Linked DNA regions of Homo sapiens. The protein of the gene in region 1 interacts with the protein of each later gene in a pairwise test. Each region holds a gene or a part of one and is shown on either strand. Other genes may lie near its edges. The genes, in order: TCAP, VIM, TTC19 and CDCA4.

Region 1 (6,546 bases):
AGACTGGGGAATTAGGCCCTTTCCCCAGTTTCCCCCTCGCAGCGCCCTCCGCGACGAGGCCCCAGACCCCGCCAGGCTCCCCTCCCTCCCGGACACCCGTCCCAGCACCCACCCTTCCCTTAGAACTGCCACACAACTCCCCCTCCCCGCCCCTCCTCCAGGCCTCTCTCGTCCGTTGCTATGCCACCGGGCCCTCCAGCGACACCCCCTCCCCACCCCGCCCCAGAAAGGACAGTCCGTTCCGGCCTCCGCTGTGGTCGCTCCGGGGGCCCCAGAGCAGGGCGCGGCACTGCCCGTCCGATGGCAGGCGCGATAGGGGAGGTGAGCTGTGCTAATGCACTTAGCGGGCGGAACAGCCGGGCCTCCCCTGCGGGCCCCGCGGGTTCCCAGCCGCTTATCTGGGGGCTCCCGAGGACAGAAGGTTCGGGTTCGGGTTGTTCCCGCCACTTCGGGGGCGGCGCCGGACCCGGGTGAGGGCAGAGGGCTTGGGCAGGGGAGGGGCAGGACGCATTCGCGGAGGGCCGCCGGGGCCACCGGGGAGCGCAGTCCGGGCCTTGGGGCCCAGCCGATTTGGGGTCCTGCGGATGTAGGGGCTCTGACCCCACTCCTCTCGCAGCCCACCCTCCAGCTTCCCTCCGAAGGAGCGGCCAGGCCAGGCATGAAGATTCTGCTCAGCACCCCAGGTTCTGGCTGTCAAAATGCCAGGGTCTCCCCACCTATCTCCCAGATGGGAAGCCAATTCTGCCTGTGGCATCTCCGTGGTCTTCCTGAAGACCCCTTCCTTCCCCTCTGGATGAGTCCCGGGCCCTTCTGCCCTGGGTAGGTCACCAGCCCAGCTCCTGCCACCGTGGGTTCCTGGCCCCGCTTGATGTGGGCCTCCTCCATGCCATTCCCTCCCCCTTGTCCCCAGGGGAAAGTCTCCTTGGGAGAGGCAGCTAGGTTGGGACATGAGTCACCACAACAGCTGCAGGGGTCACAGAGGGGAGCCTGACCCCCTAGCACCTCCAACCTTCCCTGGCTTCCAGGGCAGGGGGTGTGGAGCGAGACACAGCTGAGGATTGATTCTGTCTGGATTCAGAACTGAGAGGCAGGTTAGTTTTAGAGGTCACTGACCCCGTTCACACCCCGAGGCAAAGCCAAGGACAGTCCTGGCACCAGCCCCTCCATATTCTCCACGAGACATCATTGAAACAAACCCTGGATGCGGATGCCAGCTGGCTTGCTGGTTACCACCCAGTGCCAGGGGGCTGGACACAGAAGCCAGGACTGGGCAGCGGTCAGGGTACGGGAAGGAGACTGGAGACAGCACCCTGTTTACAGCTCTGTCCTGCCCCCACCCCCACCCCAAGTATGGGGTGTACCCATTAGCTCTGCCATATTTAGCTCAGATGCGGAGCCTGGTCCCAGAAGTGGGCATTGAGGGGACACCCATGGGCCAGCCCCCCCAACCACAAGGAAAGAGATGCAACTCTGGCACATGATTGAGCATTTATTGCGGCACTAACAGAGGGTGCTGGGGGCCCCACCATCCTTGCCTCTGCCCTTTTCACCTCCCCCTCCCTCCCAGCTTCTTCTGCCTAGAGCGTTCCAGATTCCCCTCACATTTTCCTGGATCAGGGCCACTCCTCCCAGGCACCTCTTGCCCTCACCAGTACCTTTTGTCCCTTCTCCTGGGGCTGAGGGTCCTCAGCTGTGCTGGCCCCCAACTCTCCACCCTTAGTGCCCACTGTCTCTGCCACCCTCCCTTTGGGAACTCAGGGGGCTCAGGCATCCTGGCCTCTGGCTCCCCCCTCCCCTAGCCCCCAACTCTGGGCAAACTACAAAGCAGCCATGGCCAGCAGCTCCCCTCCACAGTCCTAGCCAGGAAGGGCCCAGCCCAGGGCGGGCACAGCGGAGCCCAAGTCACAGTCCCTCTCAGCCTCTCTGTGCTTCCTGGGACATGGAGCGGGACAGGGAGCGACGAAGTGCACCGGGCTTGCTGACAGGCACCACAGGGGGCAGCTGCTTTGTGATCTCAGCCACCTCCTGGCGGTCCACACACTGGCCACCCAGGGCTGTCTCCAGCGCCAGCAGCTCCTGAAGCTGGATGGGGGTGTCCTCACGCTCCTCCTTGGTGGCGCCCATCTTGGCAGGGGTGAAGATGGGCAGCGGCAGTACCCGCTGGTAGGGCAGCTGGTACTCCTGCAGCCCACGGCCGAGGATGCCCATCCGCATCATCAGCCAGGGCGAGCGCTGCACCAGCACCTGGCACTGCCCCTGCTGGTGGTAGGTCTCATGTCTCTGGGTGTCCTCCTCATGCAGGGAGCAGCTGGGGAGAGGGGAGGGGCAGTGAGCTCCTGGGAGCTGTTGCTCTCTGGGCACAGGCTGGGTGGGGGGCTCCCCTGGGCTGCTGGGACCTGGGGGCAGGAAGGGTGGTTCCCCTTTGCTCTCCCCATGGGGCATTCTTCCTGCCCCCACCCCCAGAAATTTCTCCAGGGCTTCATGCTCTGGCCTCATGGCTCAGTGAGGGTGCTCTGGGGGAGCAGAGGCAGGGCTCTAGCAGACCCACACTCACCCCTCCTCGGGCCGTGTGGACAGTGTCAGATCCTTCCATTCTGCCCAGAAGGCCTCCCGGCGCTCACAGTTCTCCTCCGACACCTCGCAGCTCAGCTCTGAGGTAGCCATGATCACTCCTCATTCTCTCTCCCCTCCCAGGCCCTTTAAATAGCCCCCTCCTCCCCCTTCTCCAGGGGCTATTTTCGGCCCCTCTGGTGTCAGATGCTATAAGTAGAGCCAAGACTCACTAATGGGGGGACGCCGGACCCAGGGCAGGGGTTGGGGTACCTGGACGCTGGCTGCCCCCCGGTCAGAGGTCTGGGGTCCAAGGTCCTGGGGTCAATGCCTCCAGGTGCCTGACATTACTCAGACACCGTCTCATGCCAGCCACATGCCCAGCCTTGTGCCCCCCTGGCACTTGCCCTCTGCCCCACCCACTCCCCTTTGCAGGGAGGACAGCAGCTTGTCTGTAAACAGAGCAGGACCAGCAGGAACTGATGCCCCCTCTGGGCTCTGTACCAGGGCTGCCAGGTCCTGCCCTGGCTGTGCTCTCCTCTGCCTGGGCTCAAGGGCATATCCCCAGAAGGGAGAGTGCAACCACGTCCTCAGGCGCCTGCACCAAAGGCCTAGTGCCTAGTCCCCAGTCACCCTCACCACACCAGCAGGGGCGGAGACAGTCAACTTCATGCCTGGGAACCTGGGGCATGAGCCTTGGCCAGGTGTTTTCCTTCCCCATGGCCAGTGGTCAGGTAAGTGGTCTTAGGAGACAGGTCTCAGGAGACAGTCAGGCTAGTAGGGGTGGAGGGCCCCCAGTTCTACCCCAACACCTGTGTTGGGTGAAATGGGAATCCAGGGGCTCTGATGGGTGATAGTCAGAAGGCCTGGCTCCAGATCAGCCATAAATAGGCTGTGTGACCATGGGTCAGTCCCTGCCCCTCTCTGGGCCCCTTTCCCCACTTTCTGGCCACTGCAAGAGGACCAGAAGAGCTCTGGAGCCTGCCCGCTCTGATGTGCTACCTGGGAGGGGACTGGCTCTTCTTCATGGGGAGCAGGGGAGACAGATGGCTGTGGGGACAGTCCAGCACCCCAGGAGTAGCAACTCATGGTGCAAGAGGCTGGCAGACAGGTGGTGGGTGTGGGGGGATGAGGAGTGAGAACACTGCCGAGTGGACAAAGGGTGGCAGGAGAGGCAGTGACAGGGGCTGAGCTGAGGACCCTGTGGGGACGGCAGAGTACCCAGGAGCACGTGGGTGCAGAACTGCAGACTATTGATTACTGAGCACTGTCCCCGGTTCTTCATATCTTTTAATCTCATAACAACCCTGTGACATCAGTCCCATTTTCATAAAGTGGGAAGCAGAAGCTGAGAGAGGTAGATTCGCCCAGGGTCACACACCTAGGCAGGACCGAAACAGGATCCACCTGGCTCTGAAGAAGCTGGCTCTGCTGGAAGCCTGCATGCAGGCAGGCAAGGGGGCAGGCCAGCCGGGAGGGAGGAGGAAGGCAGGCAGTGGCCTGGCCCCGCCCTGCGATCCGGGCTCCAGGCCGCCCCTGGTGTGAGTGCCGTGCGGGGAGAGGGAATGGGTGAGTGGAGTCTGGGAGGTCCGGGGCTCCAGGTGGCCTGGATCCCAGAGGTGCCTCAGTGACCCTGAAGCTCAGGCCCCATCTCCAGGCCACACAGTCAAGGCTTGCTGTGGGCACTGCCAGGTGCCCATACCCCCACCTCCATTCCTGGACTAGAGACTTTAAACTTGCCCCGCTGAAGCCTGGCAGGGGGCGGGGCATTTTTTTCTGACCAGTCATCTGCTCAGTTGAACTGGTCAGGAAAGCGGGGAGTGGGGGGTGGGCGGGGGGGGAATGGGGGGCATGTTTCAGGAACTGGCTCCCCGGGCTCCGCCCTCCTGTGAGCCCAGGAGAGGCTGTGTGAGGGGTCTTCCCTCTTCATCCAAGCTGCTGCCTGCCTTTCTCTTCCCTCAAGAGGCAAGGCAGTGGGAGGGGCTGGAATTTTTTTTTTTTTTTAAATTCATGTTTTTAATTGGCTTAATACAAAGGTCCCCCAGGAGGCCCTGGGAGGAGGGGGACAGCCTGGGAGAGGCAGAGATTCATGGCCAGCAGCCCACCCCCACCTGCCACCCACTCCCCAACAAGGGTCCCAGACTCTTTCAATAATCCTAAAAAAACCGACGAGAGCGCAGGCAGATGAAGAGCCCCTTCATCTTCACACGGGTGACAGGCTGCCCTGCCCTGCCCAGGGCCCTGGTCCTCCCCAGCCAAGTCAGGTGCCCAGCCCAGACCCTGCCCTGGCAAGGTGGGGCAGAGCAATCTGGTCCTCCAGGAGGCAGGGCGCCATGTAAACATCAACAGGCCAGACCCCACTTCCTCCAGCCAGTGGGGCCCCGGAGTCCAGTGCTCCACCCCACAGCCTGCTCAGTCAGTCAACTCCAGGCACTGCGTGGCTCGGTGGAGGGTGACAGCCTGGGGCCAGGTCCCATGTGGGCAGTGCGAGCCCAACTGGCACCCTTTCTGGCTCTGGAAGTGGTGGCGACAGGACCCTGGCCCGCAGGGTGGGAGGGGGCACAGTCACGCCCGGGCCCCCAGCTCGCTGATGCGCTGTCGCAGGTGAAAGGCAAATTCAAACATGGTGGCCGCGAGGCTCTGGTGGATGAGGTACCGGGGCAGGCGGCCCTGGGGGAAGGCAGGCAGAAGTCACACTTGATGGCCTGCCCTCAGCAGGGTCTCCCCTTGCAGCTGGCACCAGCAGGGGGGCTCTGGGCCAGAATGCAGGTGCAGCTCTGGAATCCAGCCTGGGTCGCCCTCTCCCACTCACCCCTGGCAGGAAGAACATGCTGGGCCTGGCTCTTGGCACCAGCAACACAAACAGACCAGGGTGGGGCCGGGCTGGCCACCAGCCACCCTTCCTCAGGGCCTCAGGACTCAGAGGTAAGAAGGGGGGGCACATGCCCTACAGCAACCCAGGGCTAAGAGACCATCTGGACCCTGACCCAAATTTTCAAGTAAGAAAGGTGGCTGACAAAGGGGAGGCCCAGGCATGGCAGAGAGCCCCCAAAGTCATGCAGCAACCAAGTCAGCAGCAGGGTCCCCTCCACTCCACAGAACCCACCTGGCAGCCCCCCAGCACCCCACCTTGAGATCTGTATTAAGAATCCAGACAAAGGTGCAAACACGGGGGTTACTGGCCGACTTGAGCACGATGAAGCCCCCAGGGCCATTCTCTCCCCTATGGAAAGAGGCATCATTGGGGGGACTTTGGAACAGAGTGAGGCCCTGACACCCCCCCGCAGCCCCTACCACTCACACTCCATTCTTGGCCCAGCTGGGACTGGGCTGGAAGCAGAAAGGCAGAGCTACCCTATCTGAACAAGGCTTAGCACAGGTGTCCCATGGGCTGCAGAATCGGCCCTCCACCCCCACCCACTCTGTGATGCTTGAATCCTCCTACAACGGCCTGTTGGTGCTTGCACACCCCCAGGGACAGAGAGCTCACCACCTTCCCAGCCCTCATACACTCTGTCCAGAGATTCTAGGTCAGCCCTGCTATGGCAGAGTAGGCTGGGCTGGCGCTTCTTACCCCTTCCCCTTCAGGAGGGGACACCTGCTCAGGAGAAGGCTAAGCCTGGGAGGCACGGTTCACATCCCATCACCATTTCATTCTCCCTCAGCTCCACTGAGCACACCTAAGCCCATTCTGCAGATAAGGAAGTTGGCATCCAGAGAGGAAGTGAGCTTCCCTGCACCCAGCAAGTCTGTCCAGTGCCCAAAGCAGAGCCTGGCATCCTATTCAAAGAACAGTGCTCCTGCTGGAACCCAGGAGGGGATGGGGAAGAGTGGGGTCTATGGGAGGGGGCCACCCGCAGCACCACAGCCTGACTGGACAAAAGGGAAGACTCCAGAAGCCCAGGCACAGATGCGGGAAGGCCATAATCCCTTTATCTTTGGGGGAACTCCTGAGCCACTCCAGAGAAAGATGACGGAGTGAGGACAGGGTGAGGA
Region 2 (7,822 bases), on another chromosome or scaffold:
TGTCTACCACATCATTCTCGGAGGAGAGAAGATAATAATATTTCCATAATTTGAAACTTAGAGATGTCCGAGAATGTACTCGAAGTTTTCACTCCAGAACACACATTATTGACCATTACTACACTATTGCCTCTTGGCAATACCTTCTCTCGTCTATTTATGTAAGTTCTATGCTCACACTGAGTGCTTTCTAGGGAGCTTTCCATGACTGCCCCACTTCATTTTTATTGCTCCAGACTTTGAAACCTTATTACACCTACAGTTAGCACCATGCGATTCACATGTAATAATCTCATCTCCCTGGAAGAAAAGGTAGGAGGTTTTATTTTGTGCCTAATGCCATTCTCCAAACACAAAGGTCTTTACAAATATCTGTATCTATAGATAGATGGATATAGATATAGCTATCACACACACACACAATAAAGCAGAACGGTTTCATATATTAAATCTTGGTGAACTAGGCTGAGTGTGGTGGCTCATGCCTGTAATCCCAGCTTTTTAGGAGGCCGAGGGAGGATCACTTGAGCACAAGAGTTCCAGACTAGGCTGGACAACACTTCCAGACCCCATCTCTACAAAAAATTAAAAAAATTAGCCAGGTGTGTGGCTAGTTTTGGGAAGACAACTCACATTTTAGGCTAAAGTTAGACATTCGTTTATTTGTTTTGAGTACTCCTAGCTACTGAGGAGGCTGAGGTGGGAGGATTGCCTGAGCCTAGGAGTTGTTGGCTGCAGTGAACTATGATTGAGTCACTTTACTCCAGCTTGAGTGACAAAGTGAGATCCTGTCTTAAATAAAAGAAAAACTTGGTGAACTTTTTCCATTTCTCTGCATCTTGCTAGCGGAAGATAAGCCCCTATATCTTGGCAACTTCCTATGCTTTAACTCCCAAAGTGGAATTTGTGTTACTCATATGCTATATGTACTAAAAAAAGTTTTTATTTTTTAATTTTAGGAAGTCTGTTTGTTATGATTAAAATCACAGACCTGAGCTCATTTTAGAGAGACCTATCTTCATTTTGGTACAAGTTATTTTATTCGACACCACCTATTTGTAAATGTTTTTAAGTAATAATAAAAAGAAGTGAGGTCTATCAAAAATGACAAAATTAAGAACTACATCTCAAGCATAAATAACCTGAATTTATCAACTTACATGATTGTAATGACAAATTAACTAATAGGACCAAGTAGAGAATTGTTTAGATATTATCCAATAAATAACACAACAAAAGAGTTTTTCCAAAGATTTATTGAAGCAGAACCAAGTTGGTTGGATACTTGCTGGAAAAAAAAAAGCAGTTTTAATGGTATTCAAAATACCTTTTAAAAAGTATTCTAGCACAAGATTTTTCTGTAAACTAGATTATGTTGTAAACTTTTTTCTAAATCTTGTAGGAGTGTCGGTTGTTAAGAACTAGAGCTTATTCCTATTCCAAATCTATCTTGCGCTCCTGAAAAACTGCAGAAAGGCACTTGAAAGCTGTTTCTTTAAGATATGGATTTCTTTTTTATTCTTGCTGGTAATATATTGCTGCACTGAGTGTGTGCAATTTTTATTCAAGGTCATCGTGATGCTGAGAAGTTTCGTTGATAACCTGTTTAAAAAAAAAAACCAAAATAAATATAATGCCACATGCCAAAGACTAAATTATCCTATATATCACGGCAAATAAAAATCCTGCTAAATATATGTAATTTATTGTGCAAATCAGAAGGTTATGTTGCTTCTGCATGAGTGAAAACTAGAAGGGGCAGACACACAAGACCCTCTTCCACTACAGGCAATATAAGGATCCAGTGGAATGTTGTAACTTACAAAAAGAAATTTCTTAAAAAACTGTGTTTATAAAAGATGGTATAATAGTTGTACACAATACAGCCAAGTTTAAAAGCAATTAAGACATATTAAAATGTGCAGCAGGTACATTTTAAATTTATGTGCAAGGGAAGATTTCATGATGACTACAATAAATTGCAACTATTTCTTTCCTGGCATAGGGAGGTAATAAGAAACTAAATGATCGTATGGCACATGCTTGTATTATATAGATGGGTTTAGGAATCTATAAAGTATGGAGGTAGGAAGACACCATATGTCCAGGATCAAAACATTCCTCATATTGAGGTAGTCTAGTGAAGCTGTTTCATGTAGCTGCTTTAGGAAGTGGTTTAAGGAAGCTTACTCCCACTTCAAATTAAGCACCAAAGCAAATCACTAATTCTGGAGCACAGGAAGACTGCTATCTCAACTTCACATCCAGGAGCCAAATAATTAGTTGGCTGTGTGTACTGCTGGAAGAAGAAGCCTATTCTTTTTTTAGTAGGCATGAATGAAACCTGAACCTCTCAAATTAGCCAGCTGTATCTGAGATTCAGATTCACTGATTTTAAAATATATCAACTCCTGTCTGAGATTACCCTATTTTTTCCTTAAAAGATACCAACCTGTCCATCTCTAGTTTCAACCGTCTTAATCAGAAGTGTCCTTTTTGAGTGGGTATCAACCAGAGGGAGTGAATCCAGATTAGTTTCTAAATAAACAAACAGGCCAAAAATGAGTAAAAACGAGTTTTTTCTTGGAAAAACCAAGTAACCATTTTACTGAAACAATTATGATTTGTGGGGGAGAGGCAATTGTGTAAAGTACTACTCGCCAAATAATTTTAGGGTAGTCTCTGTTTGGAAACCCAGGCCCTGACACTCTTGAGCATCAGGATGAGATAGTACTTGCAGCAGGAAGAAGGAAAAAGGAGTTTGCATTTAACTTAAAGCATAGAATGCAAGAGTGTACTTGGGTTCGAAAATTATAGATGTTTTATAGAGTTTTCTCTTATATGGCATTTTTTCAGATATCCTAAAAAAAATGAATGCTTTGACATAAACACAGTGGTTACAAGCAGCTGACGTTTTTCCTAAAGGGAAATAAAATGCTTACCCCTCAGGTTCAGGGAGGAAAAGTTTGGAAGAGGCAGAGAAATCCTATAAACAGATGAAGAGAAACAGTAAAATTGTTGGCAAATAACTTCAACCACTGGGAACAAATTAACACACTTTTTGTTTTCGTCACGTAAGAAAACGTACTGTTTTAAATCATAAACTAGAGATTTGTCTCAGAAACATTTTCCCATGACTGGTCTTGTTAGTACATTTAAAATATGTTACTACAAGCATTTTCTCCACAGGAGCATGAACAGGAGTTAGGAGTGGAGGCTTTGACAGAGTTATGGGTTCAAATCCCAGCTCTGCTGTTGATTAACCCTTTTTCAGCAAGTCACTTACTCTCTCTCAATTCAAATTCCTCCTCTACAAAAAGTGGAAAGCAGTTACCTCAAAGAAACTTTCTAAAGATTAAATGTGACACTGCTTAGAGCCCAGTGGCACAGGGCCTAACAAATGGTCACCATTAGTTCACGCATCCAAGTCTGAGTTCCCTACCTGCTCTCCTCGCCTTCCAGCAGCTTCCTGTAGGTGGCAATCTCAATGTCAAGGGCCATCTTAACATTGAGCAGGTCTTGGTATTCACGAAGGTGACGAGCCATTTCCTCCTTCATATTCTGAATCTCATCCTGCAGGCGGCCAATAGTGTCTTGGTAGTTAGCAGCTTCAACGGCAAAGTTCTCTTCCATTTCACGCATCTGGCGTTCCAGGGACTCATTCTGCAGGGGGTGAGAAAGATGTCTGGTGTTATTTCTCAGAAAAACCCAGCTGTTCCCAGAACCATTTACAGACCTTCTGCAATAATTTCCATTAGCGGCAAATGGCGACCACTCTAATTTTAGGTGGAGAATGCGAGTACCAAGTCCTTCATATTAGAAGCAATGATATAGGCAAGCTAAAACCTTCAAGAGTTCCATGAAGTCCCTTTTGAGTCTGTCTTGATAACTCATTTTCTTTGCATTATGATATACATTTTTACTCACTCAACATTTTGTTCAGGTATCATCATGAGCCTAGTCAGCAGAATGGGTCATTATTTTCCCTCTTTTACTGCAGGGTTGGTACTCACGGTTCCTTTAAGGGCATCCACTTCACAGGTGAGGGACTGCACCTGTCTCCGGTACTCAGTGGACTCCTGCTTTGCCTGGCGCAGGGCGTCATTGTTCCGGTTGGCAGCCTCAGAGAGGTCAGCAAACTGTTGGGAAGAAAACAGAAATGTAGATTGCTCACATTCAAGTCTTTTGACTCTCTTAGAAAAAAAAAATCATATTTCTCACTGAATGTCTTCCAGTATAGGTTTAAATTTCTGTTTTGAAAGCCAGGGAAAGAGCAGTGGAGTACTGACATTAGTATTTTCAGAGTTCACTCTACAGTGCTCATTTCAACACAGTGGAGGTCAAAGGTATGGCATTGGGGTTTACTTGGAGGCAAGGTTAGGGGGAAGAGAGTCTGCTATTCTGAAGGAGGTGATGTGGCCAGGCGTGGTGGCGCATGCCTGTAATCCCAACATTTTGGGAGGCTGAGGAGGGTGGATCACCTGAGGTCAGGAGTTTGAGAGAAGCCTGGTCAACATGGTGAAACCCCATCTCTACTAAAAATACAAAAATTAGCCGGGCATGGTGGTGCTTGCCTGTGGTTCCAGCTCTTAGGGGGCTGAGGCAGGAGAATCACTTGAACCTGGGAGGCGGAGGTTGCAGTGTGCCAAGATGTTGCCACTGCACTCCAGCCTGGGCAGTAGAGCAAGACTCTGTCTCATAAATAAATAAGAAAATAAATAAATAAATAAAGGAGGTGATGTGAGTGGTGGGGAGGCTGTGGTGGCAAACACAATATGAGCAAGAAGTCAAAGCCAGCTTTGCATTGGAGCTAGAGGATATTTAGGAATCACACACAGGTATGGGGTTTTGAGAACACAATGCTTTTCTTTGGTTGAAGCCGCACTGATTTGTTTCCTACCTTGGATTTGTACCATTCTTCTGCCTCCTGCAGGTTCTTGGCAGCCACACTTTCATATTGCTGACGTACGTCACGCAGGGCAGCCGTGAGGTCAGGCTTGGAAACATCCACATCGATTTGGACATGCTGTTCCTGAATCTGAGCCTGCAGCTCCTGGATTTCCTGCAAAAAGAACAGACAGACGGTCAGCTCTGCCAACCGTGGGGGCTGCCTTACCCTCATTCATTCCCCGAAAGTCACTCCACTAACCTCTTCGTGGAGTTTCTTCAAAAAGGCAATCTCTTCTTGCAAAGATTCCACTTTGCGTTCAAGGTCAAGACGTGCCAGAGACGCATTGTCAACATCCTATTTTGAACAGAGAAAAGACAGGACATGGAGGATGTAAAAGTGTATGGCTTATCTCATTTATTTGTCTTAGATTAACCATCTGAACCTAGTCTCCTTACTATAGAAAAGCCGTTGACACATTTTATGACCCTGGAATAGGTTTATAAATCATTCAGTGCTATAATATGCTGTGCTTTCTCCTGCTCACTAATATATTTTAATTGTGACTGCTTGTGTTTTACTCAAGGTGGTGATCAGACAATTTTAAAATAAATAAATGTCCACACACATGGTAAACTGCACTCAATCATGACTGAATCCACATTTTACCAGTGATATTTTAAAATTACTTTTTAAGGCTGGTCATGGTGGCTTATGCCTGTAATCCCAGCACTTTGGGAGGCTGAGACGGGTGGATCACTTGAGGTCAGGAGTTCGAGACCAGCCTAGCCAACATGGCGAAACCCCGTCTCTACCAAAAATACAAAAATTAGCTGGGTGTGGTGGCACATGCCTGTAGTCCCAGCTACTTGGGAGGTTGAGGCAGGAGAATTTCTTCAACCCAGGAGGCAGAGGTTGCAGTGAGCCAACATAGTGCCACTGCACTCCAGCCTGGGCAACAGAGTGACACTCTGTCTCAAAAAATAAAGTAATTCATTTAATTTAATTACTTTTTAAATCTAGAAAATCTATGCCACAACATTTTTAAGATTTGTTTTGTAATTTCATGGAATAACATGATGATAGAGGTGGACAAATTTTCACAACTTCATGTACACTTGAGTACATGGAGAACAGAAACTTGTGCTTCAAGAGTTTTAGCTTTTCTTCTCCACTCAAATCTTTTGAAACTTATCCTTAGGCTCCAAAGCAAATATGTAGTCATCTGGCATCCATTGTACAAGGCTAGATTTATATTCAATAACCCAATTCAGGATATGCATGCCAAAGATTCAGTTCAGGAAAAAATGGAAAAGAAATGTAACTCTGAACTGTATTTGCTTGGCTTTCTCTGGTGGATTTTTCTTCTAAAACTCCTTTGACTCATCCTGTAAAGGCATGTCTTTTTCACTTGCCACTGTATCAGTTCAGTTAGCCTGTTTCAGAATGACTGGTCAAGCTTGCAAAGAATGAAACTACATAAAGGATTTTTGCTGATTCAGCCGTCCTTCTATATTTCCATTTAAAAAGCTCAGCATTCCAAATCAGAATATGTAATCTTGCAACTAAGATTTTATTTCCTCTCAAAAGGATGCGTGAGGATTGCTTATCTTGTCAGCAATTATATTTGGAGTTCATAGCCTTACGGTCTTAAACTGTTGAGACTTTTCTATCACCTTAGTGGAAAAATGAATGAAGAGTGGGTGACAAAAAGATCAGACTTGATGAAAACATTGATTTTTACTTGTTAAGCCCTGAAAAATACATAAAAGATATTTTACTAACCTCCAAAGAAAGATCAATGTGGTATTCTATCACATTGAAGAGAATGAGGAATTTTGCTTAATCTCGAAACAGAGGATCTTTTGTATTGATGTTGTTTTATGTTAACTCACTACACTGCAGAAAACATGACAGGTATGATAATCAAAAATGCTCAAGGACTAAAATGAACCACACACATTGCTGTGGTTAAATTAATTTGGTAAATGTATTTCAGTTTCAAAATGTTATACTACACTATTCATCTGAGAGTGCTTTGCAGTTAATCCCAGTAAATATTCCAGGGAATACAACTATAAACTATAATGGGGATCTTCTGGCTTTTGGATTCCAATTTTAAGTTAAAAATTCTGTAAGTCCATCTAATTTTGGTGAAAAAAAAAAAAAACACGCACAAAAACCCTTTAGTTAAAATTCAGTTTTTCAGCCTTGGGTTTATTACTGTTATTATTTTTTATGGCAAGAGTGCTAAAGAACACAAGAACCCAATCAAGAAAGGACTTTTAAAATGTGAGGTATGCTTGTAGCTTTAAAAACTTTTTACATTACCTACTTCTCAAGTCTGGGCCAGATATTAGATAACGGATGTTAGCAAATACTTGTGTCCAATTAGAACCGTGCTTACATCATTACATATTCAGTAAGAATGTAGCCTGTTGCAAAGCTTCCCTGGGAATACAAAGACTCCTATTATTTCTGTCCAGAGCCACCACATTTGCCAGAATGTCTGTATCTACATTCCATAGTGAAGCCCATAGAAACCATTAATACCCCTTAGCCAAGGGGACAGATGGCTCCTTTTCACCCTTATTAGATCACAAAATAGTTGTGCATAGTGATACTTCCATCGAACTTTAATGACACAATAGAATTTGCAAAGAAGAAAAGAAACTTGCTGGCTCCATTCCAGTTGGAAACTAAGTTTTCTTATCTTCCAACACGTTTTCCATTTTAAACTGCAGGGCATAATTGCGCTTTTTGTGGCCTTGTAAAAATTAAGCAACTTGACTTTGGCAAACCACAATCTAAAATTGTAACCGTTCGAAACCAGAAGGTCAATGTGTTGCAAAACTGTGCAACATTTGGGAAACAAAGTAAAAAGTTAAAAGATTTTTCTTTATGTCCCAAGGAACTGCTTAGAAATCATTCAAG
Region 3 (7,969 bases), about 24 Mb from region 1:
TTAAATTAAGCTTTGTACTATTAATATTATTTGACTTTTTATACTAACAGATAACATTGGAAATTAAAAAGAAAAATATAAATTTGTACAAAATTATAGAATACTCAGAGAAACACAAATAAAATATAAATTCCCTATAAACCTACCAACCAAAGAGAATCACTGCCTGTATTTTGATATCTATCATTCAGCCTTTGTTCCATTCCTATTTTTAGTCTACATACTAACTATACTGTTTTGTAACCAAAGTTTTCACTTAATTTTTTATGGGCATTTCCTCAGTAAGTACATATATGTCTACAACATAGGTAACAAAATAATTATCCTAGAGCAAGGTTTTATGTAATTAAGTAATGTAATTTTATGTAATTAAGTAATGTTATCCTAGAATAGAGATAGTTGTGTCAATAAAAAGCACGTAAATTTGATAATGGATTTGCTTTGTGCAAAACTGAATAGGTAGGAATTCCTTTTCTAGAAAAAATAAGATGAAGAATCATGTAACACATTTTCTATACTGTGCAACTAGTAAAATGTAAAAATAATATTTATAATAGAAATTAGCTTGCTCTATCTAACAAGAATTCCTTTGCCTGGAAAAAAAAAGTGTTTTCATAATATGTTACTAAATTGTTAAAACTCAGGTTACAAAGTAGGATATACAGTATCATCCCAAATTTATTTCTTAAAATGTAACCCGAAAAGCCGTAGTAATAAATAAAACAGTAGCTCTTTCTTAATAGTATGATTACAGATGATTTTTACTTAGTGCTTTTCTAAACTTTCTTCAGTGTTTACTGGTATTATTTTTTGAATCAGAAAATATAGCTTTACACTCCTAAGAAACCATAGTCAACACTATAAATGAAAGACAGCAAAGGTGTAAATAGTTCAGAAGTGACTTACTTGACAGCTAGACTTGTTTTTACACCTCTTGTGGATTTCCTCAAAGCACTTCCACACTGCACTGAAACTGGATTTATTTGCTGGTCTTTCTTGGGTCTTTTGTTCTTTCATTCAGTAATTATTGAGCCTCTATTATGTGCCAGGCACTGTTCTAGGCACCGAGGATTTAGCACTGAGTATAATGGATGAAGTCTCTATCCTTCTTTGATATGGAAGACAAAGACTAAAAATTTTTAAACAAAAACATACTTTTAGTGGAGAAACACAAGCACACAACACACACACCTCTACTTTTAAGTGTGATGAAGAAAAGTAAAGGAAAGAGGAGTAGAGCAATAGTAAGGTGGGAAGAGATGATAGTTTTAGTGAAGGGAGCACTCTGAGGAAGTGCTATTTGAGCAGAGACCTGAGTGAAGTACGGGAGTTGGCCAGAGAAAGGTAAGAGAGAACAGTCTAGGTAGGGGGAATATCAAGCAAAGAGGCCTTGAGGTGGCACTAAGCTTGGAATGTGCCAGAATAAGACCAGTGTGGTGAGACTGGAACGAGCAAGGGGAGAGCAGCAGATGGCATGGAAGAGGTGGGTGGGCCCAGGTCATAAGCGCCTTACAGGTCCATGCAGGGATTCTAAATTTATTCTAAAGGTGATACAAAGGTACTGAGGTCTTGAAACAGTGATGGCCTGGACCAAAGCAGTAGGGTAATGGGATGAGACATGGTCAGTATGGATATATTTTGATGGCTGATCCAGTATAACTTGCTGATGGATTAGATATGAGGAATGAGGAAGAAATCATGGACAATTCTTAGGTTCTTGGCCAAAGCAACTAAATGAGTAGTGTGCCATTTACAAATCTGGGGCTGACTGGTGACGAAACAAGTTGTGAGCGGCAAAACTGAGACCTATTTTGGACATGTTAAGTATGAGATGACCATTAGACTTCAAGTCAAGATGTCGGGTGGGCAATCATAATTATAAGTCTGCCATTTGGGGGCAAGTTGGGGCTGAAGGTATAAATCTAATATTTAAAACTATGGAACTAAAAGATATCTCCTAGGTGTTGGGGCAGAGAGAAAAGAGAATAGGGCTGAAAACAGCCCTAAGGCGTGCCAACATTAAGAGGTAGGGAAGTCTATTCACCTCACTAGAGAGACCAGTGAGGCATCCCAGAAGCCAAGTGAAAGTATTTTCAGTAGGAGACAGTGATCCCCTAAGTTAAAGCTGCTGATGAGTAAGTTAAGGATTGAGAAGTAACCATTGGATTTGGTGACTTTGATAAAGGTAGCTTCAGTGGAGTGATGAAAACAAAAAAATTGGTGTACAGTGATCCCTCCTACTCCACAGTTTCATTTTCTGGGGTTTCAGTTATCTGCAGTCAACCAGAGTCCGAAAAATATTAAATGAAAAATTCAAGAAATAATCCGTAAGTTTTTAAATTGCATGCCATTCTGGGTGGCATGAAGAAATCTTACACTGTCACACTCCATCCTGCCCAGGACATGAATCATCTTTGTCCAGTGTACCCAAGTTGTATACGGCAGCTGGCCTCAGTCACTTAGCAGCAGTCTCAGTTATCAGATCAACCCACAATGTTGCAGTACTTGTGCTCAAGCAATCCATATTTTACATAATGGCCCCAAAGTGTGAGAGTGGTGATACTGGCAATTTGAATATGACAAAGAGAAGTCATAAAGTGCTTCCTTTTAATGAAAAGGTGAAAGTTCTCAACTTAGTAAGAAAACAAAAAACAAAAAACAAAAAACTGTATGCTGAGGTTGATAAGATCTACAATAAGAATGAATCTCCTGTCTGTGACACTGTTAACAGTATATAGTTATAATTGTTCTATTAAAAGTTATTGTTGTTAATCTCTTACTGTGCCTAACTTATAAATTAAACTTTATCATAGGTACATATATATAAGAAAAAAACACAGTGTATTAGAAGTCGTTTCAGGCATCTGCTGGGGGTCTTGGAACATATTCCCCATGGATAACGGGGGACTACTCTATGTTCAAGAGAGAGTTAGAAGACCACTAGGTACAGAAGAGTTGACTGCTGTATCCCTACCATCTCGGTAGCTCTTGGTATAGAGTAGGTATTGAATAAATGTCAAATCTGAAAATTCTCAATACTTCAACCCAAATTAAGAAACCCAAAATGGTGGAGAGCTAGAGAGCTTCCTGCTCATCCAGTTCTATTCCTAGCCTCCAGAATGAGTGAGGATGGATTGTAAAAACATGAGCTTTTTTTCTCTTCTTTCTTAATTTGCTGTATATCTAGGGCTAAAACGTAATAAGCATTTTGATTGGTAGCTGAACTAAGAGATACGAGAAACACCTTCTCCTTCTGCTCCCCAATTTTCCTTAAGTTATATGTAACTAAAAGTTAACAAATAAATTATGACCATGTTACCAAGGGGGTTAAAAAAAAAACCACCACCAAAACAGCAGTCAAATATTTTAAATAAAACATCTTATTCCAAAACTTCTGCTGATACCTTAAAGACAGACACTTATTTTGCAAAATAGGTAACTTTCCCTCTTCCCAATTTAGATCTCTTTCCATTTCTCAAAAGTGTAAAGTAAAGCCTTTTGTGGAGAAAAGGCAATGCCCAGATAATGGGTTTCCTACCTGACATAATGTCTTCTGCTAATTCCTTTTCTCTTTCAATTTTTTCCTCTAGAGTTGAAATGCAGAATTCATAGCCAGCAACAGCAAATTCCTGTCTGTAAAGCAAAATCAATAATCAGCCATTTACCTTTTCTTCTTTTTTTTTTCTTCCTTCTGTTGAGATGGAGTTTCGCTCTTGTTGCCCAGGCTGGAGTGCAATGGCGTGACCTCGGCTCAGAGCAACCTCCACCTCCGGGGTTCAAGCGATTCTCCTGCCTTAGCCTCTCGAATAGCTGGGATTACAGGTGCCCGCCACTATGCCCAGCTAATTTTTGTATTTTTGGTAAAGACAGAGTTTCACCATGTTGGCCAGGCTGGTCTGGAACTCCTGACCTTAAGTGATCCACCCACCTCGGCCTCCCAAAGTGGTGGGATTACAGGCGTGAGCCACTGCGCCCGGCCCATTTACCTTTTCACAAATTCTTTTTATCTTCATTTTTCCAGCTCAGTTTAAACATTATCAGTAAAGGAAGTGTAAAATGGGAAGAGGGAACTTTGCTTAAAGTCTAAGTAGTGTCAAATCTGCCATTTCTCAAAGCAGTTTTTTTAAGTCATCCATTTAATATAACTTAGGACACAAAAAGCTAGGAATGCTGCCCTAATTTTAATAACTGACATAGCCAGCAGTATTCATCATCTCCCACTAACAGATGGCCTCCAGTGAATCAACTTCTCCATGTGTGAAAGCCTTACCCCTGTTCAAAGTAATACTACCCTAAACAGTTCAGGCCGCCCTACAGTGAGGATTCCAACTGTTGACCTCATACAGCTTCTGAGGAGCTTTAGTCATTTTATATTTCTTTCAAGCTATAAGTCTCTGATAAAAGTTTCTTTTGCAGAAATGGGACTCCTAGCTATGGCAATAGAAGTCATTTAACCCAACTCTGTAGCCCTGGACCCTCAATCAACTGGAGAGGGTTGAGTCAACCCAAGCAGGCCGACTGACTGCTGCTTTTTACAGAGATGCAGAGGAAATGTGACAGAAATCCCTTCTCCATTTAGGAGCTCAGCTTTGGTTCTTTTCTTCAGTTTTGGCTCTAGTTTCTTACAGAAGTGGCACTAAAAAGCTCACCTGTTCTCTAGTGCTTTGCCAGGGGAGAACTTATGACCCTACTGTTCTGCTCTGTTCTCAGAAGAACAGAAGCATCCCCTTCCTTCCCTACGCTCAAAACTTGGCAAGAGGGCCCTCTCTAGCCATAACACAGGGCAAGTGGACACTGCCCAGAAGACGCTCCCAGTCGGAGCAAGAGGTCTACAAACAATTCCCCTCATAACCTATATCAGCCTTTCGAAGCCTCAGATCTGGCCATGTCTTTTCTAGTCTCATGCTTCTCTTAATAAAACAAAATGAAAAGTACAGAGTACCATGTAACTCAGAGGCTAATTGTTACTAGCTTTCACCTCTAGAAGACTATGAATTTGTCTTACTCAACAATGTTTATTAGGCTCTGGGCTTCTTCTTACCCTAGGGATTCATACCCAATCAAGAACTAGGCATGTTTGTTACAACTCCAAGAAAGATTGACCAAGCTGCAGTGTTCCCTGGCATGGGCCAAGCTCAAAGCTCCTCAAAAGACTTGAAGTCAAAGGCTCCAGGAAGCTCTAGCCTATCTAGTGTCCAATCAAAATGCAAGGAGACTATGCAGGTCCTGATGAGAACAAAGGAGCTGGTGAGTAGGACAGTAGGGAACAGTGCCAGGGCCTGGCCTCAGTGAGCACCCTTTCTACAGCATCAGGCTCCATGTCACTCCAAACCTCTCGCACCAACTTCTGCACCACTAAAACCTGAAGGGAAGCTAGTCTTAGGTCTCTCCCTAAATTCATCCCAAATACAACTCTCTAGAGGAGTTCTCTGCTTACAACCTAGATGCTTCATCTTTGAACTCTATTTATACCAGCAAAATGGCTTCTTCAGAGTATTAATATATTATCCCCAGCAGCTTTCACACTGCTCTTTCCTCTTCTAGGAAAAGTTAAACTAAAGTTCTAACTCTAACTTCCCTTCCCACTTCAAGCAGCAACAGAAAACTTAGTTAGTTTTGTCACAGGGCAGCCAGAGATGTTGTGTGCCCCACTAGGCAGGCTGATGGAAACAGTAGGGGCAAACTGGAAAAAGACTGACAATTTCAAAGATGAGGGATGGAACACTTTGAGTGTGACACCCAATTTCTGGGAGACCCAGATGACCAGTAGACAATGAATATTATGTAACATCCCAGAGTCAAAGTTTCCTGCCCACAGTCCTACTCCCTGGCTGCTGTACTTACCTGTTCTGCGCAGCATAGATACTGGCCAGCTTTAGGGAAATTTCAATTATTGCATTGTCCTCCTGTGAGAGAAAGAGAATGAAGGGAACTCATAACAAGTAAATTTTTTCATGGCATATTTCAGATCAACTTCCAGACTGACGGTGGCCTCAAAGCCACAGTCTTTATTCTTTTAGAGTGATGAGCCAACTGTGAATTCCTTGGCAAGCATGCTGTTGCATTTAGTGAAAGAATGGCAATTTGTATAGAGATCTCAGAAGGGAAACTCCACCTTTCCTGACCAAAGCATGTGGTGGGGCTAGGAGGAGTTTTCAGGAGACAAGACTGTTTTGAAAACTGCTTCAGTGAGGGGCCAATACTAGGCAATGTCCTTACCTGCTTCATGCCCCCTCCAAGGAGGTAACTCATTGTTGCTTTAAAAAGTTGTTCAGCCTAAAAGCATAAGGAAAAGATTTTTCTTTTAATTGGGCCCCATTTTATATATATATATATGACCCTGGATTCTAAGTGCCAGTCTGATGCAACATTCCTTGTAAAACCCATATACCCACACACACGCACACTCACACACAGAAAAGTACCCTTTTGAAGCGAAAACAGATCAAAATATCAGGACCCTCAACATCCTCTGTGTACCTTAAACTACTCTCTGATGAGTAGAAAACAACCTCAGAGATTAAGTTCTTATCCAAACCCACTGTGGCAGAGACTACAAACTGTCTCCTAATAGTCATTCTCTTCTCCATCTTTTTGATTACAGAGTCCCCTCGATTTAGCCTGGGAAATATGGTGAAATCCCGTCTCTACAATAAATAAATAAATAAATAAATAAATAAATAAGAAAATTAGCCAAGTGTTGTGGCACACGCCTGGAATCCCAGCTACTCAGGAGGCTGAGGTGAGAGGATCAACTGAGCCTGGCAGGTCGAGGTTGCAGTCAGCCATGATTAAGCCACCGCACTCCAACCTGGGCAACAGAGCAAGACCTTATCTTAAAAAAAAAATTCAGTCAATTTTAGCAGATTGGACACCCTTAAGTTAGATATGGTCATATGATAAAATTTAGGCCAAGGGATGCAGGCAGAAAGAACGTGAACTTCTAATCATGTTTTATAAGGAAGCTGCTCACAGTCCATCTTCTCCCCCTTCCTGCAGACTGGAGGTGAGTCAGCTCACCTAGGCAGAGGAGGGCTTATCTTAGAAGAAACCTGGACTTCTGGATCAGAGAGCAAAGGTGCCTATGTCTGTCTGCCTTCAGTCTTTAGCCTATCTCTGGACTAACACAATAAAGAGAAATACACTTTTATCTTGTTTGAGTCACTATATTCTAGGGTCTCTTTGTTATAGCAGCTTAGCCTGTACTCTTACTATTACAGTTCCCTTGAAGCTACTCCTTCATAAATTCAAGATATTACAAAGCAATTTACTTACATTTTCAAGCTGACCCCGTATAAATGCTAAGTTGGCCATCTGAAAGCAAATTACAAATTGTTTTTCAGTTTAGAATACTGTGTTCCTACTTATTTCAAAACTTTAAAATTCCCTTTTGCTTTCACCCTCAAAATTTAAAAAATAGTTGAAAATGAAAAGCACATCACCAATTAATCTGCAAGAAGAAGCACAGGACAGCAATCATGTGAGAATTAAATACTTGCACATACTTTGTTGTTAACAAACCAAATCTAGGTCCACTCATCATTAAAAAAACATGCTAATGATACTGGTTTTTTTTGGTCTGGAATTGAGAGGTCTTATGTCACCCCAAGGGTAAAAAAACTGAAGCTGTGGCCGGGCGTGGTGGCTCATGCCTGAAATCTCAGCACTTTGGGAGGCCAAGGCAGGTGGATCACCTGAGATCAGGAGTTCGAGACCAGCCTGGCCAATATGGTGAAACCTCGTCTCTACTACAATACAAAATTTAGCCAGGCATAGTGATGCATGCCTGTAATCCAGCTACTCGGGAGGGTGAGGCAAAAGAATCGTCTGAACTCATGAGGCGGAGGCTGCAGTGAGCCAAGATTGTGCCACTGCACTGCAGCCTGGGCAACAGAGTGAGGCTCCATCTCAAAAAAACAAAACAAAACAAAAAATGAAACTGAAGCCAAAAGAAAACTCAGTAAAAAGA
Region 4 (7,888 bases), on another chromosome or scaffold:
GGTTTCGCCATGTTGGCCAGGCTGGTCTCGAACTCCTGACATCAAGTGATTTGCCCACCTCGGCCTCCCAAAGTGCTAGGATTACAGGAGTGAGCCATCACACCCAGCCACAAGCATTCTTTTAGGACTTAAACAGCCCGGGCACAGTGGCTCATGCCTGTAATCCCAGCACTTTGGGAGGCTGAGGCAGGCGGATCACCAGGTCAGGAGATTGAGACCATCCTGGCCAACACGATGAAACCCCATCTCTACTAAAAATACAAAAGATTAGTCAGGTGTGGTGGCACGTGCCTGTAGTCCCAGCTACTCGGGAGGCTGAGGCAGGAGAATTGCTTGAACCTGGAAGGCGGAGGTTGCAGTGAGCAGAGATTGCACCACTGCACTACAGCCTGAACAACAGAGCGAGACTCCGTCTCAAAAAAAAAACACACACACACAAAAAAAACACTTAAAACAAGTTGAATGTATACGATCTGGTGTATTCTGACAAAGGAATGCAACTCAGCAACATACCTCAATGATTTATGCAACACGGATAAATTTCAAAACATTATGCTGAATAAAAGCAGCAAGACACACACAAAAATATGTACCGTAGGATTCTATTGATCTGAACCTTCAGGACAGGCAAAGCTAATCTAAGTTGTGAAAACACAGAAGGGTAGCCACCATCAGGGTGGGAAATGCTACAAGGGGCCAGAAAGAATCCTCCAGGATGATGGAGATTCTCTCTCGCCCCTTGTAGGACTTGTGTAACCCAGGGACCTGCATAGATGTGCCTGGGTTACACAAGTTCTACAAGGGACGAGAGATAATCCCCATCATCCTCCACTGCATCTCATCCCATGCACAGATCCCATTCTGGTACCAGGAGAATATCCCTGTTCAGTCACTTCAAATCATTCCTCTCCAATGTTCCAAATCTCCAGCAGCTGTTAATTCTGTGTTGTACCCAATATTTTAAAATGCTGACAAGTTTATTACTATTAATACAAAAAAGAGTAAAGCTCACAGGTGCTTTTTACAGTCACGTGACCCCAAAGAGCTGTCACCCAGAACATGTGTTCAGGAGTGAAGAGGATAAGGTTGGGCCCGGAGAAGCTGGCCTGTGAGGATCACCCTGAATTGGGTTATATCTGTGTTTGGGACAAAGTCAGCAAGAGCATGGTCTTAACCAGCCCCGAGGGATGCCTGGGCTGGGCCCAGCTCCCTGAGGGCCTCCTGTGTGACTTCTGCCTGAGGCTGCTTAACTCCTTCTAATATGGAATGAGAAAGGGCCCTATACCATACCGGTGGGGCTGTGGAGCCTAGCTCCCTGCTCAATTTTTTTTTTTTTTTTTAAGACAGAGTCTCATTCTGTCCCCCAGGCTGGAGTGCAGTGATGCAATCTCAGCTCACTGCAACCTCCACCTCCCAGGTTCAAGCGATTCTCCTACCTCAGCCTCCCGAGTAGCTAGGACTACAGGCACGCGCCACCACACCCGGCTAATTTTTGTATTTTTTGTAGAGACGGGGTTTCACCATGTTGGCCAGGCTGATCTCGAACTCCTGAACTCAGGCAATCCGCCCATCTCGGCCTCCCAAAGTGCTGGATTACAGGCGTGAGCCACCATGCCTGGCCCCCTGCTCAGTTTTGAAGCTCTTTCTACACATCTAGTTAAATGCCTAAAATCCCACCAACTCCACAGGTTGTTACCGGGACAGCCAAGCCCTCAGTCAACTCCCAGCACTGCCCTCAGGCTTCTAAACCAAGCACCGACCAGACAGAGAAAAACGAAGAGGGCCAGACGGACTGAGGACATGTCCGACATGGCAGGTGGAACAGCCAACAGGCCACTAGGGACAGAGCAACCTAGGCCCACCGAGGCAGAGGCCAGCAGGGAGCAGCCCCGCAGTGCTGCTCAGGCAAGCAGAGTACAGCTCGGGGACTGGTCCTTCACTACAGCAGCAGTGGCCACACCTTCGTGGCTGAGCAATACCACGAGGCTGGCTGAAAACGCAGATTCCCAGATTCTGATCAGTAGGGCTGGGACGGTTGGGGACAGACTCAACTCTGACCTAACCTGTCACCTTCACAGCTGGACTTGCAGCCACTTCAAAGTTTCGGGTTTTTAAGCAAATCATCAACAATTTCCATTCCTCACACATCAGATAAGCTTTGAAATACTTTATCGGAAAAACAGGGAGAAGAGGAGCAAGGTCTGCAGTCTTGAGTACTGAGTGGGAGCTCCACCTTCCACTACAAGTCTCCTGGAGGCTGTTCATGAACAATTACTGTTATGTTAATTTCAGGTATTTGGTTTTTTTTGTTTTTTGAGACGGAGTCTCGCTCTGTCGCCCAGGCTGGAGTGCAATGGCACGATCTCGGCTGAGACCTCTGCCTTTCTGGTTCAAGCGATTCTCCTGCCTCAGCCTCCCACATAGCTAGGATTATGATTACAGGCATGCGCCATCACGCCCAGCTAATTTTTGTATTTTTAGTACAGACGGGGTTTCACCACGTTGGCCAGCTAGTCTCGAACTCGGGACCTCAGGAGATCCACCCGCCTAGGCCTCCTCTCAAAGTGCTGGGAGGTGTGAGCTACCGCGCCCAGCCAATTGCAGGTACTTTTGTTACTTGGAACGAAACACACTCCTTCTTTTCCCTGAAAACATGTTCCAGTGGCAAGTTGAGGGAAACTTCCTAGCCCCTTTTCCAAGATACAGCCTACTACTCTTCCTAGAAAAGGGGTGTAACTCACTTTGTATTCTGGATTTCCACCCTAATTATAAAACACGGTGACACTTGAAAATAGAGTGGTTGTACGTAGAAAGTTGATAAAACGTAAGTTTTGTGAACAGGCAATGTTTTTCTGTGGCTCGCTTTGAGAGAACGGTTATCTGGGTCCCGCCGTCCCGTGCGTCCCACACGAAGGCCACAGGAGAAGCGAGGCAGCGGAGACCCTCTATTCCAGCAAGCTGTCGGAGCCTTTGCCACGACGATCCTGTTTGCGGGGCGAGAAGCGTCTGAAGACGCGGAGGGAGGCTTGCGTCTGACTTCTGCAAGTGTCTCGGGGACTTTCCCTAGTCCCACCTCGCACCGCCGGAGGAGCCCAGGGAAGACGGCGCTGGCCGACCCGCCCGGGGTCTGGGCCTCCTCCCACATCCGCGGCCCTCTCCGCGGCCGGGCTCCGACAGAGGGGGCTGCGGCGCGCCTGGCGTTCCCTCCGCTGCAACTAGAGCCGAGGTACGGGAAACGCCGCTGCGTACCCCAGCCGGGCCCTCGTGAAGCGGCTCCCGCGTGGGGCCGCCCGCAGGCCTCGGCAAAGCCCCAGCTCCGCGCTCCGCAAGGAACGCAGACGGCGGCCCGGGCCCCTCTGTTCCCCGGGCCCCCTCAGCAGCGGCCACCCCGCGGGGGAACCAGCGCCCAGGAGGGCGGCGAGGGCGCCGCGGCAGCCCCAGCGGTGGTCCCGGGCGCCGCCTCCGCCCCGGACCCAGCGCCAGGAGCCACAGACTCCGCGCACCGCCCCCAGGCTCCTCCGCGCCCTGCAGCACAAAAGTGCACGCCGCCGTAGACGCCCTAGCGGTCCGCCGGGCCCGCTCACCTGACCCGCGAGGCCGCCCGCCGGGTCCTCTGCTCAGCCACCGCCACCGCCGCTGCCGCCAGCTTCCCGCCGCTGAGGAAGGAGCGCCCGACGGCGCGGGGCGGGGCGAGCGACCGCCACTCGGCGTCCACAAAGGGTCGACGCTGCGCTCTCCGCGCGCTACGCCCGCTGATTGGCCACTCGCGGGCCGGGGGCGGGGCCTCTTGTTCAAACCCACGCGGGCGGGGCATCTGTGGCGCGTCTTCCCGCGCTGCGGCGACGGCCGTTGGGGCTCGCGCGCGCCCTCGGTTGCCCCGCCCCCGCCCCTGCGCCCGGCCCCGCCACGCCCACGCCCCGCCGGCTCCCAGGTCTCCCCGCGCCCAGTCCGGCCCCGCCCCGCCAGCTCCCAGGTCTCCGCGCGTCTGGCCCTGAACTGAACGCGCCTGCGCCTGGGGCCCACGTGGGGCCCTCGGGCGGGCGTGGCGGGGCAAACAGAGGTTTGGACTCTCTCGCTTCTGCCTGGCTCAACTTCTCCGCCGAGGCATCCGTGCCGGGGTCGGGAGGAGCCGGGCACGGCAATTCCCGGGCGGTCTGGGCTCCGAGGTCTATCCAAGCCTCTCCAGAGACCGGGGTTATCTCCAAAGGCTTCCTAGGTTTACACGTAAGAAATGTAACGTGAAAGTTCAAAGCAGGGGACACGTGTTTTAAATCTCTTAGTGGAAAAGGTTTTAAATAGGATGCGAGAACCTGCAATCATTGACTTAAGTAATACCCTGAGCGCCTGCAGCAGGCCCGGCAGGCGTGGCTGCAGCTGAGAGCCAAGTGCTGGAAGTTGGGGGGGAATCCTCAGATCAATCCGCAGGTGCGGATGCGCCAAGGTCGGTGGTAAATGCTGAAATGCTGTCGGGAAACCTGGGAGTGACGTGGGGGCGCTGCTCACATAGGTCTCTAGGATAAGGAGCGTCTTAAAGCACCAAAAGGAAGAGTGGACGAGAATTCAGGAGAGGAATGGCTGGGGCAAAGCCCGAGGCAGGGGCAGGAGGCAGGAGCACGTCTCAGTGCAGTGAGAAAGAACCCTGTGATCTCGTGGGAAAGTTTTAAGTGTGAGGGGTGGAGGGACTTTTGGGCTATTCTGGGAGTGGGATGGAGACTACTGGCATGGTCAGCAGAGAAGGAACTGGAATCTGAATTGTGCTTGAAAAGAATCACTGTTCTTATTTAAAAAAAAAAAAAAGGGGGTCTCTTTCGCCCAGGCTGGACAACAGTGGCGTGATTATGGCTCACTGTATCCTCGAACTCTTGTGCTCGAGTGATTCTCACGCCTCAGCCTCCCAAGTAGCTGGGACTACAGAAGTGTGCCACTACACCAAGCTAACTTTTTTTTTTTTTTTGGTAATTTTGTAGAGACAGGGTATTGTCTTGTTACACAGGCTGGTCTCCAACTCCTGGCCTTAAGTGATCCTCCTACCTTGGCCTCCCAAAGTTCTGGGATTACAGGCATGAGGCACCACAACCACCAAGAATCACTGTTGGTAATAGATTTGGAGGAGGTGGCAGGAAGGCTGGAAGTAGAAAATCCCATTAGGTTACTGCCCAGGTAAAAGAAAATGGGACTTGATAAAGGTGACTACCTGAGAATTTAAAGTTTATGCATGTCAAAGTGAAAAGACAAATGGGGAAAAAAGTTTTTCCTGGCTGTATCCCACATAAAGGTTAAATTCCTTAATATACAGATATTCTGCAAATGCAAATGAAATCTAGATCACCAAAGAAAAGTGGTTTGGAAATAGTGGCACCCACCTGTAATCCCAGCTACTCAGGAGGCTGGGGTGAGAGAATCCCTTGAGCCCAGGAGTTGGAGGCTGCAGTGAACTATGATTGCACCACTGCACTCCAGCCTGGGCAGCAGAGTGAGACCCCATCTCTTAAAAAAAGAAAAGAAAAGTGGGCGTAGAATATAAACACAGTTCAGAGCAAAGAAAATACAAATGCTCCTATACAGGCGAATAGATGCTCAGCCCCAATCAGAACAAGAGCAGTGGAAATTAAAGCTATGCTGGAGTGCTGTTTGCCACGGGTCAAATTGGCAAAGATCTAAAATAATGTCTGGAGTAAGATAATATCTTCCAGAGCATATTAGTCTATTCTCATGCTGCTAATAAAGACATACCCGAGACTGGGTAATTTATAAAGAAAAAGAGGTTTAATGGACTCGCAATCATGGCAGGAGACAAAGGAAAAGCGAAGGGACGTCTTACACGGCGGCAGGCAAGAGAGCGTGTGCAGGGAGCTCCCCTTTATAAAACCGTCAGATCTCAGGAAATGTATTCACTATCCGGAGAACAGAACAGGAAAGCCTGCCCCATGATTCAGTTACCTCCTGCCGGGTCCCTCCCACGACATGGGAATTATAGGAGCTACAATTCAAGATGAGATTTGGTGTGATATTTTGACATGTATATACAAAGTATAATGATCCATCAAGGTAGTTAGCATATCCATCACCTCAAACATCATTTCTTTTGTGTTGGGAACATTCAAAATCCTCTCCTCTACCTATTAGAAAATATGCAGTAAGTTACTGTTAACTGTAGTCATAAAATATTAACAGGCTTGCTAGGACATAGGACCAGAAAAAACATAGAAGTCTATGGTTACACCAAGATTGGAGTCATATTTTTCAGTAACTAATGTATTCAGGAAAATTGATGACAAGGAGAACTAGAATCCGTTAAAAAAAAGACTCAAATTGAAGAAAGAGCATCAGTCTTACACAGAGTCTTCCAAATGATAAAGGGGAACTCTTCTTACCAATTTGTTCTACAGGGCTAACAAATTTGATACTAAAACTCGAAAGGGACATGATGGGAGAAAACACACATGGTATTCTCTCTCATGAACATTGTTTAAAATTCCAAACCACATATTAGCAAATCAGATCCAATGATAATGTAAAAAAGGTAACTCATCACAACCAAGTTGGGTGTACTCCAGGAACTGGAGTACAGTTGATTTCACATTGCAAGGTCAACATGATTCATGACAATAGAATGAAGGAGAAAAAAAGTATGAAAATCTCAGTGTAGAAGCATCTAGTAAAATTCAACACCCCTTCATGGTATAATCTTTAGCAAACTAAATATACAAGTACAAAGTTAGGGACAGCCCCAAGACCACCCTCAAGTTTGAAATTCATTAGAAGGACTCAGAGAATTCCCTAGAAGCTATTGTACTCGTGGTTATGGTTCATTACCATGAAAAGGCTCATTAAAATTAACCAAGAGAAGAGGTGCATGGGGCAGCGGCCAGGAGAGGCCATGCGGAGACTCCAGTTGTTCTCTTAGTGGAGTCATAGTGGTATTGCTGGTGAAAATGTGTCACTGGGCCTGAGTCCAGAGTTCATTTACTTCCCAAATGAATATATACATTTATTCTATTGCCAGGCAAAATCCCAGGATATTTTTGAAACCTCACAAAATGCTATTAAAAATCTAGAGAAATGGCCGGGCACAGTGGCTCATGCCTGTAATCCCAGCACTTTGGGAGGCTGAGGTGGGCGGGTTACCTGAGTTCAGGAGTTCGAGACCAGCCTGGCCAACATGGTGAAACCCCGTCTCTACTAAAAATACAAAAATTAGCCAGGCGTGGTGGCATGTACCCGTAATCCCGCTACTCGGGAGGCTGAGGCAGGAGAATTGCTGGAACACAGGAGGCGGAGGTTGCAGTGAGCTGAGATTGCACCACTGCATTCCAGCCTGGGCGACAGAGTGAGACTCTGTCTCAAAAAATAAATAAATAAACATAAAAAATAAAATAAAAATCTAGAGAAATACATGTGGAAGGCTACCCTATAGATAAAGTAAGAAAAAAGAAAAGTATTAAGGAGGACACCCACCTCTATATCAGTTACCTTTTGCTGTGTGACACACTTTCCCAAACTTAGTAGATTCAAAAGGCAGCCTTTTGTTTGCTGGCATTTCTGCGGTTGGCATTTCGGCTGGGGTCACAGCATCCTGTGTCTCATGAGGCATCAGCTGAGCTCACTCAAGTGTTTGGGTCTTGGCAGAGATGACTGACTCATCTCTGCTCTGTCATCCTCCGGAAGGCCAGCCCAGGCAGGCACCAATACAGGGGCTCTTTTTATACTTCCCTCTGCTCTGCTCATATGTGCCAATGTCCAGGTGGCCAAACCACATGTGGCCAAGCCTAGGGCCAGTGTGGACACGAGAAGACAATTCCCTGGAGGACATTATTATTGTTACTATTATTTTGAGACAGAATCTCACTCTGTCGCCCAGGCTGGAGTGCAATGGTGTGATGCTCTC

The links.
Region 2: the proteins of TCAP (region 1) and VIM interact in binary tests that used the Homo sapiens proteins (3 or more experiments, as listed by UniProt).
Region 3: the proteins of TCAP (region 1) and TTC19 interact in binary tests that used the Homo sapiens proteins (3 or more experiments, as listed by UniProt).
Region 4: the proteins of TCAP (region 1) and CDCA4 interact in binary tests that used the Homo sapiens proteins (3 or more experiments, as listed by UniProt).

What each region holds. Positions count from the first base shown.
Region 1 is NC_000017.11:39,661,478-39,668,023, reverse strand, and holds TCAP (telethonin), read right to left. Parts: upstream 2,676-6,546; 5' UTR 2,665-2,675; coding exon 2,555-2,664; intron 2,309-2,554; coding exon 1,915-2,308; 3' UTR 1,470-1,914; downstream 1-1,469. Other genes in the region: STARD3 (stAR-related lipid transfer protein 3), read right to left, coding at 4,971-5,220, 5,657-5,773. UniProt on the Homo sapiens protein: Muscle assembly regulating factor. Mediates the antiparallel assembly of titin (TTN) molecules at the sarcomeric Z-disk.
Region 2 is NC_000010.11:17,231,010-17,238,831, reverse strand, and holds the end of VIM (vimentin), read right to left. Parts: intron 5,246-7,822; coding exon 5,150-5,245; intron 5,063-5,149; coding exon 4,901-5,062; intron 4,140-4,900; coding exon 4,014-4,139; intron 3,664-4,013; coding exon 3,443-3,663; intron 2,987-3,442; coding exon 2,943-2,986; intron 2,539-2,942; coding exon 2,453-2,538; intron 1,603-2,452; coding exon 1,561-1,602; 3' UTR 1,239-1,560; downstream 1-1,238. UniProt on the Homo sapiens protein: Vimentins are class-III intermediate filaments found in various non-epithelial cells, especially mesenchymal cells. Vimentin is attached to the nucleus, endoplasmic reticulum, and mitochondria, either laterally or terminally.
Region 3 is NC_000017.11:16,002,138-16,010,106, reverse strand, and holds part of TTC19 (tetratricopeptide repeat protein 19, mitochondrial isoform 1 precursor), read right to left. Parts: intron 7,315-7,969; coding exon 7,276-7,314; intron 6,277-7,275; coding exon 6,220-6,276; intron 5,907-6,219; coding exon 5,845-5,906; intron 3,634-5,844; coding exon 3,539-3,633; intron 1,130-3,538; coding exon of another isoform or gene 1,101-1,129; exon of another isoform or gene 1,043-1,100; intron 1-1,042. UniProt on the Homo sapiens protein: Required for the preservation of the structural and functional integrity of mitochondrial respiratory complex III by allowing the physiological turnover of the Rieske protein UQCRFS1.
Region 4 is NC_000014.9:105,017,415-105,025,302, forward strand, and holds the start of CDCA4 (cell division cycle-associated protein 4), read right to left. Parts: upstream 3,670-7,888; 5' UTR 3,585-3,669; intron 1-3,584. UniProt on the Homo sapiens protein: May participate in the regulation of cell proliferation through the E2F/RB pathway. May be involved in molecular regulation of hematopoietic stem cells and progenitor cell lineage commitment and differentiation.